Regions from separate parts of the Homo sapiens genome. Here all the other regions are linked to region 3. The links come from fine-mapping of genetic effects on gene expression. A gene starts in region 3. Each other region holds a variant in brackets. All regions are shown on one strand. Distances are from middle to middle.

Region 1 (2,764 bases), 54 kb before region 3:
AGCACAGGCAACAAAAGCAAAAATAGACAAATGGAATTTTATCAAACCAAAAAGCTTTTGCACACCAAAGGAAACAATCAAAAGATTGAAGTGGGCCAGGTGCAGTGGCTCACACCTGTAATTCCAGCACTTTGGAAGGCCAAGGCAGCAGGATCACTTGAGTCTAGGAGTTCCAGACCAGTCTGGTCAACATGGTGAGGCCTCCATCTCTACAAAAAAAAAAAATACAAAAATAAGCCAGGCATGGTGGCATGCATCTGTGGTTTCAGCTACATGGGAGGCTGAGGCAGAAGGATCACTTGAGCCTAGGAGGTCAAGGCTGCATGCAGTGAGCCATGGTTGAACCACTGCACTCCAACCTGGGCAACAGAGTGAGACCCTGTCTCAAAAAAAAAAATAGAGTGAAGTAAGAGCCTACAGAATGGAAGAAAATATTTGTAAACTATGCATCTGACAAGGGATTCATATCCGGAATATATAAGGAACTCAAACAACTCAACAGGGAAAAAATGAATAATCTGAAAGCTGAATAAACATTTCTCAAAAGAAGACATACAAATGGCCACAGGCAGGTGCAAAAATGCTCAACATCACTAATCAGAGAAATGCAAATCAAACCCACAATAAAATATTACCTCACCCCAGTTAGAATGGCTACTATATAAAAGATTTAAAAAATAACAAATATTGGTGAGGAGATGGAGAAGGGGACCCTCCTTACATTTTTGGTAAGAATGCAAATTAGTACAGCCACTATGGAGAACAATATGAAGGTTCCTCAAAAAATTAAAAGCAGAGCTACCATATAATCCAACAATCCCACTACTGGGTATATACCCAAAGGAAATGAAATCAGTGTGTTGGAGAGATATCTTCACTCCCAGGTTTATTGCAGCACTGTGCACAGTAGCCAAGATATGGAATCAACCTGAGTGTCTATCAATGGATAAATGGATTTTTAAAATGTGGTATTTATACACATTGGAATACCATTCCTTCATAAGAAAGAATAAAAGCCTGTTGTTTGTGACAACATGGATGAGTCTAGAGAACATTATATTAAGTGAAATAAGCCAGGCACAGAAGGACGAGTACTGCATGATCTCACTCATTTGTGGAATCTAAAAACGTTGATCTCATAGAAGTACAGAGTTGAATAGTGGTTATCAGAGGCTGAGGATAGGGGGGAAGGGTGCATGAGGAGAGGTTGGCCAATGGTGCAAAGTTACAATTAGGAGGAATAAGTTCTGGTGTTCTA[C/T]TGTACAATAGCATGACTATAGTTAACAGTAATGTATATTTCAAAATAGCAGAGAGGATTTTGAATGTTCTCATCACAAAGAAATGAGAAGTGTTTGAAGTGATAGATATGCTAATTACCCTGATTTGATCATTACACAATGTATAAATGTATCAAAACATCACACTGTACCCGTAAATGTGTACAATTATTATGTGTCAATTAAAAACAAAATAAAACTTTAAAAAATGGACCAAAGACCTTATCAGATACCTCACCAAAGAAAGTACACAAATGGTAAACAAACATGAAAAGATGCTCCACATCATATGTCATCAGGGAAATGCAAATTAAAACAACAATGAAATACCACCACATACCTATTAAAATGGCTAAATTCCAGAACACTGACAACACCAAATGCTGGTGAGGATGTGGAGCAACAGGAACTCTCCTTCATTGCTGATGGGAATGTAGAATGGCACAGCCACTTTGAAAGATAGTTTGATGGTTTCTTACAAAACTAAACATACATTTACCATATAATCCAGAAATCATGCTTCTTGGTATTTACCCAAAGGAGTTGAAAACCTATCCACACAAAAATCCGCACTTGGGTATTTATGGCAGCTTTATTCGTAATTGCCAAAACTTGGAAGCAACCAAGATGTCCTTCAGCAGATGAATGGATAAATAAACTATGATTCATCCAGACAATGGATTATTATTCAGCACTAAAAAGAAATGAGCTATCAAGCTACAGAAAGATATGGAGGGACCTTAAATGCATATTACTAAGTGAAAGAAGCCAATTTGAAAAGGCTGCATATATATCCCCAACTATATGACATTCTGGAAAAGGCAAAACTATGGTGATATAGTAAAAAGATCAATGGTTGCCAAGGGTTGAGGAGAAGGAGGGATGAATAGATAGAGCAGAGAGGATTCTTAGGGTGGTGAAAAGGCTCAATATGATATTTATTATACTGATGGGTACATGTCATTATGCATTTGTCTAGACTCATAGAATGTACTACACCAAGAGTCAACCCTAATGTAATCTGTGGACTTTGGGTGATTATGATGTGTCAATATAGGTTCATCAATTGCAATGACTTTGGTGGAAGATACTGATAATGAGGGAGGCCATGTATATGTGGGACAAGGGGTATATGGGCTATCTCTGTACCTTCCTTTCGATTTTGCTGTGAACCTAAAACTTCCCTAAAAAATAATGTCTTTTAAAATAATAATAATAATAATAGTGCTTTAATCTACATCCCTCTTCATGGATCAAAAACATCTAAGTACAAATGAGAATTGCATATGTTTAATGATTACCGTCCAGTCTTTAAAAGTTCAAGAGGAAACTCCTAATAATAACATACAGTGGCCAGTCATGGTGGCTCACGCCTGTAATCCCAGCACTCTGGGAGGCCGGGGCGGGCGGATCACGAGGTCAGGAGTTCGAGACCAGCCTGACCAACATGGTGAAACCCCGTTCTACTAAAAATACAAAAAAAATTA
Region 2 (2,764 bases), 110 kb before region 3:
TGGACTTTGTAGGAGGTCACTGTTTGTTTGTACATATTACTTGAGACTGGCAATGGGACAGGCCCTTTAGCCACTGCTGGTAGCCATTGCTGGTAGGACTAACTGGAGAGCAATTAATTTGTCCAAATCCATCAAGCACCATCAAAATCTATACTCTTACACCTAGCAATTCCACTTTTTGGATTGACTCATATGCAATTAAGTAGATTAATGCAAAGAATTATGTAAAAGGATTCCTGCTGCAGCATTATGTTTAAAAACAATAATTTTAAAATTTGAATGTATAATTATATAGAAATAATTAAGTCATGCTACATCCATCTGTGTATGCAGCACAAATTATGTAATTGTATGCAACTGCTAAAAATCATGTTTTGAAGAAACAATTTCTATGATGAGAAAATGCTCAGTATACAATAGTAAATGAAATATACATAATTCCAAGTTATAATAAATACGCAGACACATAGACACAGTAGAAGAAAACACTCAAAATACTCCAAAATAATAATAGTGGTTACTTGGTAATGATAGAATTACAAATAACATTTTTACTTTCTTCTTTATATATTTCTACATTTTCTCAATTTTCTACAATGCACATTGTAATTTTTACAATTTTAAGTAAATACTCCTATTATATTCTAATCATATTTTCATAATTAAAAGCTCTTTTCATTTCAAAATACTGCTATTATCTTTAAGGACATTTTTACAGAACCTAATTGGGAATTTTGGTTCTAATGATTATATAATGTTACCACTATTTCTATACTGCTATTTTCAAAACAGAGGCAAAGCAAGGCATAATGAATCATTCTTGAAAGCCCCAAGTAAATGCTAGCACTTATGTCAGACCAGGAAAAACTTTTAAATTATAACCCTGTAAAGTAATAACTTCAGATGAAAATGTATAATATTAGTATTGACTATGATTTGGATCTGAGACAGCTAGAGACATAGAGTTTCCACATTAACTGAAGCTAACCATTCTAAACCATTAGGAAGTGAGTTCTGATCGCCTCCATCAATTATCAACTGAAAGGCAACCCTGAATTTTATTTAAAAAAAAAAAAAGACTTAAAACCTTTTTGAAAATGTTCCTCCCACTTTGTCTTATAATGATCTTTATGGAATTTGTATTCTTGTGCTCGCTTCAGCAGCACATTTACTAAAACTGGAAATTTGTATTCTTAAACCACATTCTAATATGAATTCACTTGCTGACCTAATAAAGAGAAATTACTCACAGAGGGCTAAACATGCTTAAAGATTACTGCTTGAGGCCAGGTGCAGTGGCTCACGCCTGTAATCCCAGCATTTTAAGAGGCCGAGGCAGGCAGATCATGAGGTCAGGAGTTTGAGACCAGCCTGATCAACATGGTGAAACCCCATCTCTACTAAAAATACAAAAATTAGCCAGGAGTGGTGGTGGGCGCCTGTAATCTCAGCTACTCAGGAGGCTGAGGCAGGACAATCACTTGAACCTGTGAGACGAAGGTTGCAGTGAGCCGAGATGGCGCCACTGCATTCCAGCCTGGGCGACAGAG[C/T]GAGACTCCGTCTCAAAAAAACAAAAAAAAAAAAAAACAAAAATTACTGCTTGAAACAAAAGTACGATAAATGATTATCTTAGAGTGTTGCAAGTAAGAAGTCATTTTGCTGATAAACAATTTTATAGACTCAAGAGATATCACAACCACGAAAACTCAGAAATCTTTAATGACTCTGAGTGTCATCAAAGATGTTGATTAAAAACCTAGAAAAATAAACTATCCACTAAATTGTTTTATTCAAACATGTATAAGGAAGGTCTCATCAATTTCAACAATAGATAATGATAATCATGACAACTCAAAATATTGTATTTAGTCAATATATACTTTATGCTCATTTTCAAAAACTTTTTTTTATTTTTCAGAAAAAGATAAGTCATTAACTATAAGACTAAAGAGTGACTTAATGGCTGGGTGCGGTGGCTCATGCCTGTAATCCCAGCACCTTGAGATGCCGAGGTGGGCAGATCACGAGGTCAGGAGATTGAGACCATCCTGACTAACACAGTGAAACCCCATCTCTACTAAAAATACAAAAAATTAGCCGGGCATGGTGACACGCGCCTGTAGTCCCAGCTACTCGGGAGGCTGAGGCAGGAGAATGGTGTGAACCCAGGAGGTGCAGTTCGCAGTGAGTGGAGATTGCGCCACTGCACTCCAGCCTGGGCAAGAGATCAAGACTCTGTCTCAAAAAAAAAAAAAAAAAAAGAAAAAGAGTGATTTAATTTGTATAGCTTTTAAAACTTTCCCTAAAAAATAAAGTCATGCATAGGAAAAAATTTTCATTGTTAGATCTTGTGTCCCAATTTTTGTTTAACATAAAATATTTCCCAAAAATATAGGTAAAAATTAATTTTATGATAAAGTTGGCAAAAAAAGTCAGCAAGGAAAGAAAAAAACAGTATGATCAATGATGCTGAGTCAACTGATTAGCTAGCTGGGAAAAATTAATTTAGATCCCCCCTCATGCGATTCATCAAAATAATGCCAAATATTAACAGATCAAAGAGTTATATGTTTGGAAAAAATTTTTAAGAAAAAATGTTATCTGCTCTTTAAGTGAAGGATTGAGCTTAAAAATTATATACAATCACAAAGGAAAAGATATGTAATTGAAATACTAATATCCTACCTCTTAACTGGTCCAAGAACATGAGCAGAGGATTTACCAAAGAAGAAATAAAAATAAGTACTAAAACATGAAGAACATT
Region 3 (2,764 bases):
CCATCAGAGGAAGTGAGTCACACGCCTGCACTAGTTAGGGTATCTACAAAGAAGAGACCACCTGCGAACAGACGCGGGGTCACCGGGTAGGCAAGAAAGGGGGATCCAAAGGTCAGAGCTTCCCACTTTCTGTCCTGCCCCACCCCTCCCACAGCTGCCCAACCCAGGAAGCCCTCCCGGACAGCCCCTGCACCTTGTCCCGGCCATAGCGACGCAACAGAGTGTAGGGCCAGGACAGGAGTGGCTCCAGTATCTGACTCTGGGCCCCCACGGTCAGGAGAGTCAGCCTTTCAGCCTCCACCCTCAGCACGTAGGAGCCATGCAGGCCACAGCGCTCGGCGGCCTCAGTCCTCTGCACCGTTACCCAGAATTGGGATCCTGGAAGGCATACACGATTAGACAGCTGCGGGGGAGGGACGGGGGCAGCAGTGGGGACCCAGAGGACTCATGAGCATAGTGTCCAAGCACTCACTCGGAAGCCAGATCTCAGGGCCTTCCTACTTCTTACTTCCCCATGGGCCCCTGGGTATCCACCCACTTCCCAAAGGCCCTCGGCCCTCCTCCTCTTCACTCCATCCCTGCCCGGGCTTCTGAGGCGTCTACCTTCCCAGGTAGGGCTGTACAAGGAGTTCTCCAGCATCTCCAGGGCAGAAAGCTTAGGTGGGTTATCGGTAGGCGCCAGAGTCCAGCTGCCTTTCTGTAGTAGAGAGCATCGAGAAACCCGTAATTTCCTCAGCGGGGAGCGGGGGTCGGTCTGAGGCAGCCCCATTTCTCTGCCTCTGTAACTGCCCCCACCCCGCATCGCCGCAGCTCCTCACCGGAAAGGCGTTTCGGCACAGCGTCTGCACCCAGGCTGCACTGGACGGCGCGTCGGCCGCCAGCAGGTGCGAGCGCTGAGCAGTGTCCAGGCGGAAGGCAGTGGCGCCGGGCTCAGGGGGGGTCTCCACGGTGACGGGGGCCACACTCACACACTCAGCCAGACGGATCACTTTGCAGTCCAGGCGGCGCGAGCTCCCTCGGCCACCCCCAGAGCTCGACCCCTTATGGTCAAAGAACTCGAGCCGCGCTACGCCGTGGGGACTGGCCGGGTAGAGCACGGCCCAGGTCTTCCTCCACCTCTAGGGAGAGAGAGAGAGTGCTCGAGAGGGAGTGGCGTGCGCAGGCGGCCCGGGTCCCGACGGGGAAGGAGGTTGCGGCGCAAGTCGATTTGGGATCTGGGGCTTCCAAACGGGGTTGGGGGCGAAGTTTCCCAAGGACGATGCCACTCCGTCTCCCCAGGACCAGAACCCCTAGACTACAGACGCTTCCCGGGAGTGTGCAAAGCAACTTCACGGGAAAGTCACAGGCTCTCCAACTCCCGGCGCCGCTCTCCAGCCCGCTGCCCACCTCTCCCTGTTTCTGGGCTCTCTCACCCACTACTAGCCCGGATAAGGTTCGGCATCCATGCGCCAGACTACCTTGGTCCCAAAGCGCTGACTCTGCAAAAAAAGCGGCCCTTCCATCACTGCTCCGTCCATGGCCCCCGGCGGTTCCTTCCGCGCTTCCTGGCCCTGCGGCGGGAGGCGGGGCGGGAGGCGGGGCCGGGTTCCCTGGAGGAGTTTCCGCCCCTCCCCGGCCCCCGCCGGCAGCCGCTGGGGGGGTCGCGGTGGGGTGAGGGAGAGGAGCGAGAAGGAATGGTGGAGACCCCCGGATTAGCCGGGAGCTGCAGCACCCCAGGCCCCTACCCGCCGTCGTGGGGGCGCGCCAGTGGCTCCACCGAAAGTCCTCGGTTTTGGCGCGAGGGCCCTGGCCTCTGGGCGTGGTGGCTGCGCGTGACGTCATATGCCCAAGGTGACGTCAGAGTGAAAGCCATGACATCACCCCGAAAGCGCCCCGGGCACCGGAGAGACCCACACGGGCCTCCGGGGCTTTATTTACCCTGGCCGGGCCCGCCCCCAGCCCCGCCCGAGCCGGGCTGTTTAGACTCCGCTGGCCCGGGACTCGGAGGGAGGGCTGGGGTTGAACCGCTTCCCGCCACCACCGGGGCCGCCCCGCCGCCCGGCCGCCGCTTGCATGTCAGCTCCCTGACCGCAGAGGCCTGGCCTCCATGCCGCGGGAAGAGAAAGCTTCATTGAACGAGCCGGGAGGGCCAGGGAGGGGGAGGGGGCGCGGCAGTGGCCAGCTCCACGGGGAGGGAGGACCCAGAGGAGGAGAGGAGGGAACTGGCCGGGAGGAATGGAAGGAGAAGGCGGAATGTGGGAGGGCTCAGGGGGATGTGGGAGGGACGAACGGAGAAGGGGGAGAGAGGGGGGTCCAGTCTCCCCTGGCCGAGCATTTTTTTTTTTTTTTGGAAGTCCTAGGACTGATCTCCAGGACCAGCACTCTTCTCCCAGCCCTTAGGGTCCTGCTCGGCCAAGGTAGGGGGAGTCACGCTAACCGCAGAGGGAATGAGTAGGGGATGGAGAGGATGTGGAGGGACCAGGGAAAACGGGTGGTGTGGGATGGAGTCGAGGGGAAGCCACCCAACTGAGAGTTTGATTCTTGTCAAAGGGCAAGTGAGACAGAGTACACGGAGGAGGCACATACCGGAGGCGGGGGCTACGGGTGTTCGAACAGGGCCGCCAGGAGCGCCCTAAGGGAGGGGGCTCCTCCGGGAGGCGCTGCCCCTGGGTCCCCAACCCAGAACAAAGCTGCCTTGTTGGATTGATTGTTTGGGTTGGGGGAAGCATGTTGACGGGGGCTTGCTGTAGAGGGGCTGTTCTCAGCCCTAGGCAGAGAAGGCCTT

What was found. PIP is the estimated chance that this variant, and not a neighbour inherited with it, causes the effect. A credible set is the group of variants that fine-mapping cannot tell apart.
Region 1: its variant is the best candidate, but not a certain one, in a credible set for the expression of DOK1 in whole blood (INTERVAL, PIP 0.75).
Region 2: its variant is the best candidate, but not a certain one, in a credible set for the expression of DOK1 in whole blood (TOPMed, PIP 0.63).

What each region holds. Positions count from the first base shown.
Region 1 is chr2:74,607,638-74,610,401 of GRCh38, reverse strand. The region is part of intron 3 of M1AP (meiosis 1 associated protein); the gene reads left to right. Among named protein-coding and RNA genes, the nearest start is that of M1AP, 39 kb to the left of the region's middle. The variant C/T (reference allele first, on the strand shown) is at 1,259.
Region 2 is chr2:74,664,726-74,667,489 of GRCh38, reverse strand. All of the region lies in intron 5 of SEMA4F (ssemaphorin 4F), which reads right to left. Among named protein-coding and RNA genes, the nearest start is that of SEMA4F, 12 kb to the right of the region's middle. The variant C/T (reference allele first, on the strand shown) is at 1,551.
Region 3 is chr2:74,553,508-74,556,271 of GRCh38, reverse strand. It overlaps DOK1 (docking protein 1), which reads right to left and starts at 1,552. Exons shown (of 5, transcript NM_001381.5): 1 at 1,458-1,552; 2 at 819-1,118; 3 at 604-697; 4 at 194-378. The coding sequence starts at 1,517. It overlaps LOXL3 (lysyl oxidase like 3), which reads left to right and starts at 2,330. Exons shown (of 14, transcript NM_032603.5): 1 at 2,330-2,396. RefSeq lists enhancers at 1,251-1,310, 935-1,452 and a silencer at 1,461-2,210.